2 linked regions of the Homo sapiens genome follow. The protein of the gene in region 2 interacts with the protein of the main gene of each other region in a biochemical or structural test. Each region holds a gene or a part of one and is shown on either strand. Other genes may lie near its edges.

Region 1 (4,716 bases), on a different chromosome or scaffold from region 2:
GCAGGAGAGGTGACTCGGGCTCAGCTGCATGGTCCTGCTCTGCTTCTTTTTTCTTGGAGTTTGTCCGTTGGATGACAATGATAGTGGTGAACAGGTATGGAGGGCTTACTAAGTACCAGGTGCAGTGCTAAACATTTTGCCTGTATTGTCTTAGTTAATTCTCACAGTCCTTTGAGGAAGGCACTATTTTTAACTCCTGTATTAAAGATCAGGACACAGATCTTAGTTAAAGTCATAAAGACAAGAATAGGTGGATTTCAGAGCTCTGATTAACCAGGATCCTCTCTGGCTGGGTGCTCAGGAACACTAGGGCCTCCTCCCCTTACCCTCTGGAGCAGTGGGGAAGCCAGAAGGAGGGGCCCGATGTTCTGCTCAAGGACCGTGGGGTGAGGGTGTGGTGGTGCCACCGGAGGCAGAACTTGCCTTGCCTTCCTGGCTTGAGGGGCATATGGTGTACACGGCCACCACCAGAGGGAGCAGGGGCGGGCATCTCGGTGACCAGCCTCCCAGGGCTGTCACTGCCTCACTGGCAGGCATCCATGCAGGGCAGCTATGAGTCCAGAGGAACCTTTAGGCTGAGGGAGCTCCCTGACCCTCCGTTAGAGAGCCCCAGACTGAGACCTCAGAGAGACTCCCAGACTGGGAATCCAAAGGGCCATTGGCAGAGACATTCAAGAGGGGCTCCTGCACTGAAGGGCTCCCTTACCGTGAGAAGCCCTGTGAGGAACCCCCTAGCCTGAGCCTCCTCCTGAGGAACCCAGGCTAAGTCACTCTCAGAGGAACCCACAGGCTGAGAGACCCTCAGAGGGACCTGCAGGTTGAAGCCCTTCAGAGGAACTCTCAGAATGAGACATTGTTGGAAGGTCCTCTCCATTGAGACACACAGGGCCCCAGGTTGAGAAGGTGACATGAGGAGGGATGTAGTGGGGTGTGCTCTGATCTCAGCGTTTAGGAAAGGATCCTGGGAACTTTGGCTCTGGGCCGCACCCCATCCTTGCCCTGACTCATGCCTACTGCTCTGCCCTTCTTCCTACCCCCTCCCAGTGACTTCAGGTTCTAGGTGTCTGGGCCTGGGCAGGTGAGGAGGGCCACTGGGGTTGGGCTCTCTGGGATGTCATTCTGGGTCCTGGATGGGGGGCTGTTGCTCTGCAGCTGGGTTAGGGAAGGCATGGGGCTCTGAGGGAGGGAGAGAGAAACACGTGGCCCGACCAGTTTGGAGTTGGTGTTAGCTGCCAAGCAGCTCAAGTGGGCCTTGCATTTGTGCACTCTGGGCCGCTGAGGGGAGCTGAAGGGAGGTCAGGCAAACACTCACTCAATCTGCCTCCCTCCATCAGGCTGCCCTTCTCTGGCTTCCTCCTGATCCAAGTTCTCTACATTCATCTCTCTGCCTCCAGGACTGGTAAAGGCTGGGCTCTGGGATCCAGGCAGGCTTGAGTGTCAGTATCCAAGCTGGGCCTGACTGGGAGAAGTGTGCGTGTGCGTGTGTGTGTGTGTGTGTGTGCACGTGAGAGAGAGAGAGAGACAGACAGACACACATGGAGGGTACAGAGGCTCCTGCTTCTCCTTCCTGGTCACAGATTCAGACCCCCTCTCCTTCCCTGCCCTGCAGTTCGCCAGGGCCCTTCCACTTCCTAGGGTGACCCCATGAGGTCTCGAAGTCCTCTCTGTCTCCCCAGCCTTCTCGCTTCTCTTTCTCTGTGACTCTGCATGCTGATCGGAGGCCAGGGGTTTCCCAGCCCCAGCCCTCTGTGGCTCCCTCCTCGTGGCAGGGTCATGGTAGGCTCTGGAACTCTGGCCAGCGGAGGGTGGGGCCCATAAAGCTGGCTCATAGCCCAGGCTGCTGCAATAGCAGGGGTGGCTTAGGCCCAGCCCCCTGCCTCCCCTCCCTTCCCCCAGGTATAAGAGCTGAGCTCAGGTGAGCTGGCTCCTCCTGTCTTGTCTCAGCGGCTGCCAACAGGTAAGGAAACCCAAGGCTTTTCACCCAAATATACTGCCTGCTGTCCAGAGGGCACACTTAGGGTAAGAGCTGGGGGATCAGATCCTGGAGGTTGGTGTGTGTGTTTCAAGCAGAGGTGGGTGGTTGGAGGAGGTGGAAAGAATTAAGCTAAGGTGAGTTCCAAGGGATTCCCCCTAGATGCGTTGGCCTGGGGGATATGACCTTGGCTCCTGAAGCCCAGGCGGGGCCTGGGCCTATGTGGTGTTGGTTTTGAACCCCTGGTGAGGCACAGAATATCTGAGATGGAGCCAAAGGGGGCAGCTGAGAAAGAAATGCTAGACTCTCTCCTCAGCTCAGGCCTACCCCCTCCTCTAAGCAGATCATGAGCCATCAGCTCCTCTGGGGCCAGCTATAGGACAACAGAACTCTCACCAAAGGACCAGACACAGTGGGCACCATGGGACAGTGTCGGTCAGCCAACGCAGAGGTGGGCTCATTCACTCCTGGCCTTTCTGCTCCCACACTCCTCTCCTTCACCCTGAGGGTCTATGTCCCCCCACTGACTTCTGCCCTTCACCTTGGCCTTGCCCTGCACCCCAGACCCTGTGAGTGAGATGTGAACCCTCTTCTGAGGCCCACACAGGGTGATGCAGATGGAGTCCTCCTGGGAAGAGGATGCCTGGGTGCATGCTGGGACCTGCTCTGCCTGCGGTGGGGGGTGTGGGGAGGGAAGCCTTCCCCAACCTGTAGCTGCTGTGGCCTGGAGGCCGAGCAGGGGGTGGGGGAGAGGGGCTAGATTCTGGGCTCTGGAGTGGGTGGGAGCTGTGTGCCTTCCAGCTGCCTTCTGCCCTGGGGGCTTTGCTAGGCTCCTGGAGAAGCAGGGTTTTGGGGTGCATGGAGCTTCACTGATGTTTGTGATGTCCCCTGCCCTCAGGATGCTCAGGAATTCAGTGATGTGGAGAGGGCCATTGAGACCCTCATCAAGAACTTTCACCAGTACTCCGTGGAGGGTGGGAAGGAGACGCTGACCCCTTCTGAGCTACGGGACCTGGTCACCCAGCAGCTGCCCCATCTCATGCCGGTATGGACGGAGCACACCCCACCTCAGCCAGTACCCTGACTTCCCAAGCAAGTGCTCCGGGACCCCACCCACACTGGCACTTGCAACCCCCAGCTCTTCCCCCTTGCCAGTGCTAGGTAGCCTCTGCTCCTGCTGTCTGCCCGTGGGCAGGGTGGGGTGGGAAGATTGGAAGGTGCTGCATCCCTGAGCCATGGTTTCTTCACTCCCCTCAGAGCAACTGTGGCCTGGAAGAGAAAATTGCCAACCTGGGCAGCTGCAATGACTCTAAACTGGAGTTCAGGAGTTTCTGGGAGCTGATTGGAGAAGCGGCCAAGAGTGTGAAGCTGGAGAGGCCTGTCCGGGGGCACTGAGAACTCCCTCTGGAATTCTTGGGGGGTGTTGGGGAGAGACTGTGGGCCTGGAGATAAAACTTGTCTCCTCTACCACCACCCTGTACCCTAGCCTGCACCTGTCCTCATCTCTGCAAAGTTCAGCTTCCTTCCCCAGGTCTCTGTGCACTCTGTCTTGGATGCTCTGGGGAGCTCATGGGTGGAGGAGTCTCCACCAGAGGGAGGCTCAGGGGACTGGTTGGGCCAGGGATGAATATTTGAGGGATAAAAATTGTGTAAGAGCCAAAGAATTGGTAGTAGGGGGAGAACAGAGAGGAGCTGGGCTATGGGAAATGATTTGAATAATGGAGCTGGGAATATGGCTGGATATCTGGTACTAAAAAAGGGTCTTTAAGAACCTACTTCCTAATCTCTTCCCCAATCCAAACCATAGCTGTCTGTCCAGTGCTCTCTTCCTGCCTCCAGCTCTGCCCCAGGCTCCTCCTAGACTCTGTCCCTGGGCTAGGGCAGGGGAGGAGGGAGAGCAGGGTTGGGGGAGAGGCTGAGGAGAGTGTGACATGTGGGGAGAGGACCAGCTGGGTGCTTGGGCATTGACAGAATGATGGTTGTTTTGTATCATTTGATTAATAAAAAAAAATGAAAAAAGTGAAACATGTTGTCTTGACTGGACACCCCCTCCCTGAGGGTCCACGGGTGAGAGGAGCTTGGGGGTGAAAGGCAAAGTCATTGGTAGGGTGGGGCACGTGGGGCTGGAGTGGTTGGCTGTGGAAGTGAATGGGGACTCACTTTTCCCTATGGGTTTGGGTTGAGGGTGGTACCAGGTCCAAAAGGGCAACATGGTCCTCTCTGAGGGACAGGCTCCTCTTTGCCAATGGGCGGGCCCTCTTATAGGAGAGGAGGGTATGTGTGCACACTTGGGGAAAAGGATATTAGTCCAGGTGTTCTGAGCCCTGGCTGGCACAACCAGGGAAATGGGGTGGGTGGGGGTGGGGGGCGGTTAGAAACAGGCTGACTGGCCTGAGTTTGAATCTCAGATCTGCCACTTATCATTGGAATTTTGGGCATGCTCTTAGTATCAGTTTCCTCATCTGTAAAATGGGGGATATGAATATTACTTCCACAGGATTGCCAGGAGGACAATGCCACACATCATGTAAAGCACTTACAGAGAGCCTGACACATGGTGAGTGCCCAGTGACCCAATATCATTCCCGCTGGAGTGGGCAAGTGGGCCCCTCTTTGGTTTCAGCTGCTGCCCTAGTGTAGGGAGGTCGAGCTGGCCAGTTTCCTTGGGTATCTTAGGGAAACGGTGGGGTGTGGGGAGTTTCCAGAGGAGTCTTCTGGTGTACATGAGGGATCTTAGGGCTGGG
Region 2 (4,177 bases):
TACAATTTGGACAATTGCTTTGATACAGTTTCAGTGTGTTTATGTTAAAAGAGTTTCATAATTGTTTTTTCTTGCAAGATAAAAATCTTTCCATATGGCTTTCTTCACTTTTACTCATGAAAATAGTAATCACATAAACTGTAACCCTTCTGAGGGCAGGGATCTAGACTGTTTTGTTCATGGCTTAGTCCCCAGAAAGTATCATACTACCTGGCACATTAAGTGGGTAACCAGCATTTAATTACTCATTCAGTCACCAAATGTTTATTAAATGAGGAAGGATCATGGTTACTGAGTGACAGAAGAAAAAATAAGTCTCAACAGCTTTAATTTATTAAGTATTTTTGAATCAATACAGAGGGCTAGGAATGTCTCCAGCCTGGGATTCCTTATAGACACAGAAGTCTCCGAGAGGTGACCAAAGTCATTCTATTATTTTTCTCATTAGTGGACTCACTACTTTGGAATGTTGGGTTTATCCATGTTCTTTGGTATTTTAACATAGAAACAGCTATTCTTTTTAAAGGGTTAAAAATATCCCAGTCCAATCCTCCTGGGAGGTACTAGTCTTATTTAATTGCCTTCTCTTTCAGCATAAGTAGAGGAGACAACACTTTTAAAGGCCCGTTGGTCACCCTGGCTTCTTTCTTACTCAGCAACTACTGATATAATCAAAGAGGACTAGACTGGACAGTGAAAGAAACAGGGCTCAAAATAGCCTTTTAAGTAAAAAAATAAAATGAACAAACCAGCACTATCTACCATCTGTGCCAGACAGTGCAGATGTGAAATAAATACTTTGCAGGGAGGGGTGTTGTGGAAAGGGTGGCTCTGAAAGCCTAGGCACATCCAACATATCAACGTCTCTATAAGGCCTTTCTCCTTGGCCTTCCTGAATTAATGGGTGATTTTTAGAGGCCTCTGATGTGTTCCACATGGCTAATTTTCCATGAAGATCTTTGTAGTTTGCCTGCTATCCTCTCAATAGCTTTAACTTCTCCCCACATGACAGTTATTGCTTCTTAGAAATGAATGTGCAGAACCGTGAACAATAATCCATTTTCTCCTTTTATCCCTAGTAATTAATCAAACTCAATAACAGCACAAAAGTAACAACTCAGGTGAAAAGAAAACTCACTTATGTCTTCAATGTCCAATCAACATTGCCAAATGGGAGAACAGTATGTACTATACTCTACTATATACAGATACTCTTTGTTTTGTTTTATTTGTTTTTCACCATGCACTGTGTAACAGGTATCACAACAACATTTCCGAACGGCACATGAAGAAGGAGCAAATGTTCAGTCATGACTGGAACAGGATTGTGCAAGCCATGGATGCCTTTGAAAATAAAACTGACAGACAATCCCAAGCAACGGCAACATGGGACTGAGACACATGTTAATGCAAATGGAAAACGATGATGTGCTTTTTGAATGGGGTTATTCTTACTGTTTGCATAGGGGATGGCAGGTGGACAGGAGGAACAGGGTTGGGATGGGGCACCTGGGGGCTTAGCTGGGCTGAATGCTGGAAGAAGGACCTTGCCAATCACAGTCCAGAGCTAAAGAGATAAGAAAGAAAGGATTTTGCACGTTCCTGGGAATCTAGGCACGTTTTCCTTGTACCTGTTAAACGAGACTGCCAGGTATCACATGTTTAAATATCAGACTATTTCTAGAACCATCGGATTTCCTGGCTCCATTCCACTTTTATGCTTCTTCTTGGAGGCAGCTTCACCTCCACTCACATTCCGGAGATAAGCATGAACTTTGGTAATACGATGAAGACATGCTTCTTTCTTCTTCCATGCCCAGATTTTTTCTTAATCCAAAATAAGTTTTAAAGTGATTGGGGGAGGTGAGGGGGAATACTAATGATTTAAATTTTTACCAAAACCCATTTACATTTGGATGGTTTCACTTTCCACAAAGAAAAGCAACAACCCTGACTCTCCCAAAAAAACAAAACAAAACAAAATAACAAAAATAAAGCCAAACATTAACTACCTCCCCAGCTCCACTGAAAACAAAACCAAAAACAAAACAAATCAAAGCCTTAAGGATTTATCAACCTGGAGAGAGTGCAGCCCTTCTAGACTGAGCTGCAAAGATGGCCCTGCCTCCATGCCTTGTTGAACATGATGATGCCCCTGGGAATGGGAGGTGATGGTTTTTTACTTCGGCCCTAGTACAGAGTATGCTCTTGAAGCTGGATTCCATCAGCAGGTAAGTGAACATGACAAATGTCAGTTTCCTCTGTCCATTATACATAATTTTTATGTATATATATGTATATATATAAATTTACTATATCTGATAGTTCCTTTAGAAGCCTTTTATGTGGCAGTAGGCCTCCAGGGAGGAGAAGAAAATGTACAAGAGCCATAGGAGCACAAAGAGGCAGGATGTGAGGAGCTTGGCAGTCCGGGGCCCACCCAGCTCACCTCCGATTTCTGGCCTCCGCCGATACAGCAGCACCCCCACATTGATGAAAGCAAAAATGGTGAAGAGAGTGACAGAGAAAGCTAGTGTGCCAGGGGACACTTTGAACTGTTCCCCATTGGCTGCGTGGTAGATGGCAGCGATGGACCAGGCCACACCGATTCCCAGGAAGACATTCACCGCGTTGCTGCCCGTGACGTTACCTATGGAGGCGTCTGCATACTGGTCCTGGGTGGCTGCCACTTTGCTGGCAAATGTGTCTGCAGAGGAAGAAGAGAAAGTCAATGACACTCAATCTTTTAGAGATGTCTTTGGAGTGCTGCAAGCTTCAGCTGTGTACTCTAGGACCCAACCCTTAATATAAACCCAGTGACCAAGAAATGGCTTTGATGTTCCTCTGAGTCAGACTCATGGGGTGAAAAGAACAGGATCTAGATATTGGGAGTTAAGGGTTCAGTGCTGGCTGTGTAATGGACTGAGCAAGTGATCTTGGTCAAGTTTTGTATCCACAGATACTGCAGTTCTTTGTAATATTGACCTTGCAGGGCAGCATTTTTTCAGAAAGTAGTCACAGCTCACCTACATCAGAATCAAGTGGGGTCCTTTCAAAGAGTGAGTATTGCAAGGTGCCATGCGGCTGTGCTGGTCATAATGACAGCGGCCCAGGAATCTATTTTAACAGTATCCTAAAAGATTCTAGGTCACTAAAGTTTCGGAACAGCTGCTGGAGGGTATTACTAAAAGATGCTGTATCAGCAGCTCTAGTTTATAGATGAGAAAGTTAAGATGTCGGGAGAGATTTTTCAAGATTCAAGAGCAAGCCAATAGTGGAATTGAAAACAATTGAACTATAATAGAGTAGCTGACATTTGCTTAGAGCCTTAAGAATAAAAAAGCAGATTCAGCTATATTACTGCATTGATTGTGATGGTACTTTTTTATTATTATTTTTTATTATTATACTTTAAGTTTTAGGGTACATGTGCACATTGTGCAGGTTAGTTACATATGTATACATGTGCCATGCTGGTGTGCTGCACCCACTAACTCGTCATCTAGCATTAGGTATATCTCCCAGTGCTATCCCTCCCCCAACCCCCACCCCACAGCAGTCCCCAGAGTGTGATGTTCCCCTTCCTGTGTCCATGTGATCTCACTGTTCAATTCCCACCTATGAGTGAGAATATGCGGTGTTTGGTTTTTTGTTCTTGCGATAGTTTACTGAGAATGATGGTTATGAGGTGAGGGAACGAGGCTTAGAGATGACAAGTAGTGGATGCAATATCACAACTAGGAAAAAAACATGTTAGGGCTACAGCTCCTGCCTCATGTCTTCAAAACGAATGCTTTCTCATGGTGCTTTTCTACCTTTCACTGTGCTGTGGGCACCAATGATCATTTTCAAAGCCCTTTATTTACTCATAATCCTGACTGTATCTTTTTGTGATGATAGGAAAATCTTGGTCCACTACAGAAGGTTGAACAACAGTGACTTAAACTTCTTGATGGGTAGAACACAGGGGTTTAGAGCACATTTGAGCTGGGGGACTTCAAATCCTGCCTTCGCAGCTGACTGTGTGACTCTGGAAGATTACTTAACTTCTCTGGGCCTCAATTTCCTAATCTGTTAAATGGGGATGGTACTGCTCACTTCAGAGTGCTGTTGGTAAGGTGAAATACTACATGTAAATAAAATGCTTTTGATGCTTTTTGGCACAAAGTAGTAGGAG

The links. The genes of interacting proteins can lie anywhere in the genome.
Region 1: the proteins of SLC8A1 (region 2) and S100A14 interact in a biophysical measurement, tested with the Homo sapiens proteins (one large-scale study listed by IntAct).

The regions. Positions count from the first base shown.
Region 1 is NC_000001.11:153,613,536-153,618,251, reverse strand, and holds S100A14 (protein S100-A14), read left to right. Parts: upstream 1-1,926; 5' UTR 1,927-1,957; exon of another isoform or gene 1,958-2,019; intron 2,020-2,315; 5' UTR 2,316-2,393; coding exon 2,394-2,423; intron 2,424-2,870; coding exon 2,871-3,017; intron 3,018-3,229; coding exon 3,230-3,367; 3' UTR 3,368-3,997; downstream 3,998-4,716. UniProt on the Homo sapiens protein: Modulates P53/TP53 protein levels, and thereby plays a role in the regulation of cell survival and apoptosis. Depending on the context, it can promote cell proliferation or apoptosis.
Region 2 is NC_000002.12:40,112,923-40,117,099, forward strand, and holds part of SLC8A1 (sodium/calcium exchanger 1 isoform A precursor), read right to left. Parts: intron 2,708-4,177; coding exon 2,331-2,707; 3' UTR 1-2,330. UniProt on the Homo sapiens protein: Mediates the exchange of one Ca(2+) ion against three to four Na(+) ions across the cell membrane, and thereby contributes to the regulation of cytoplasmic Ca(2+) levels and Ca(2+)-dependent cellular processes.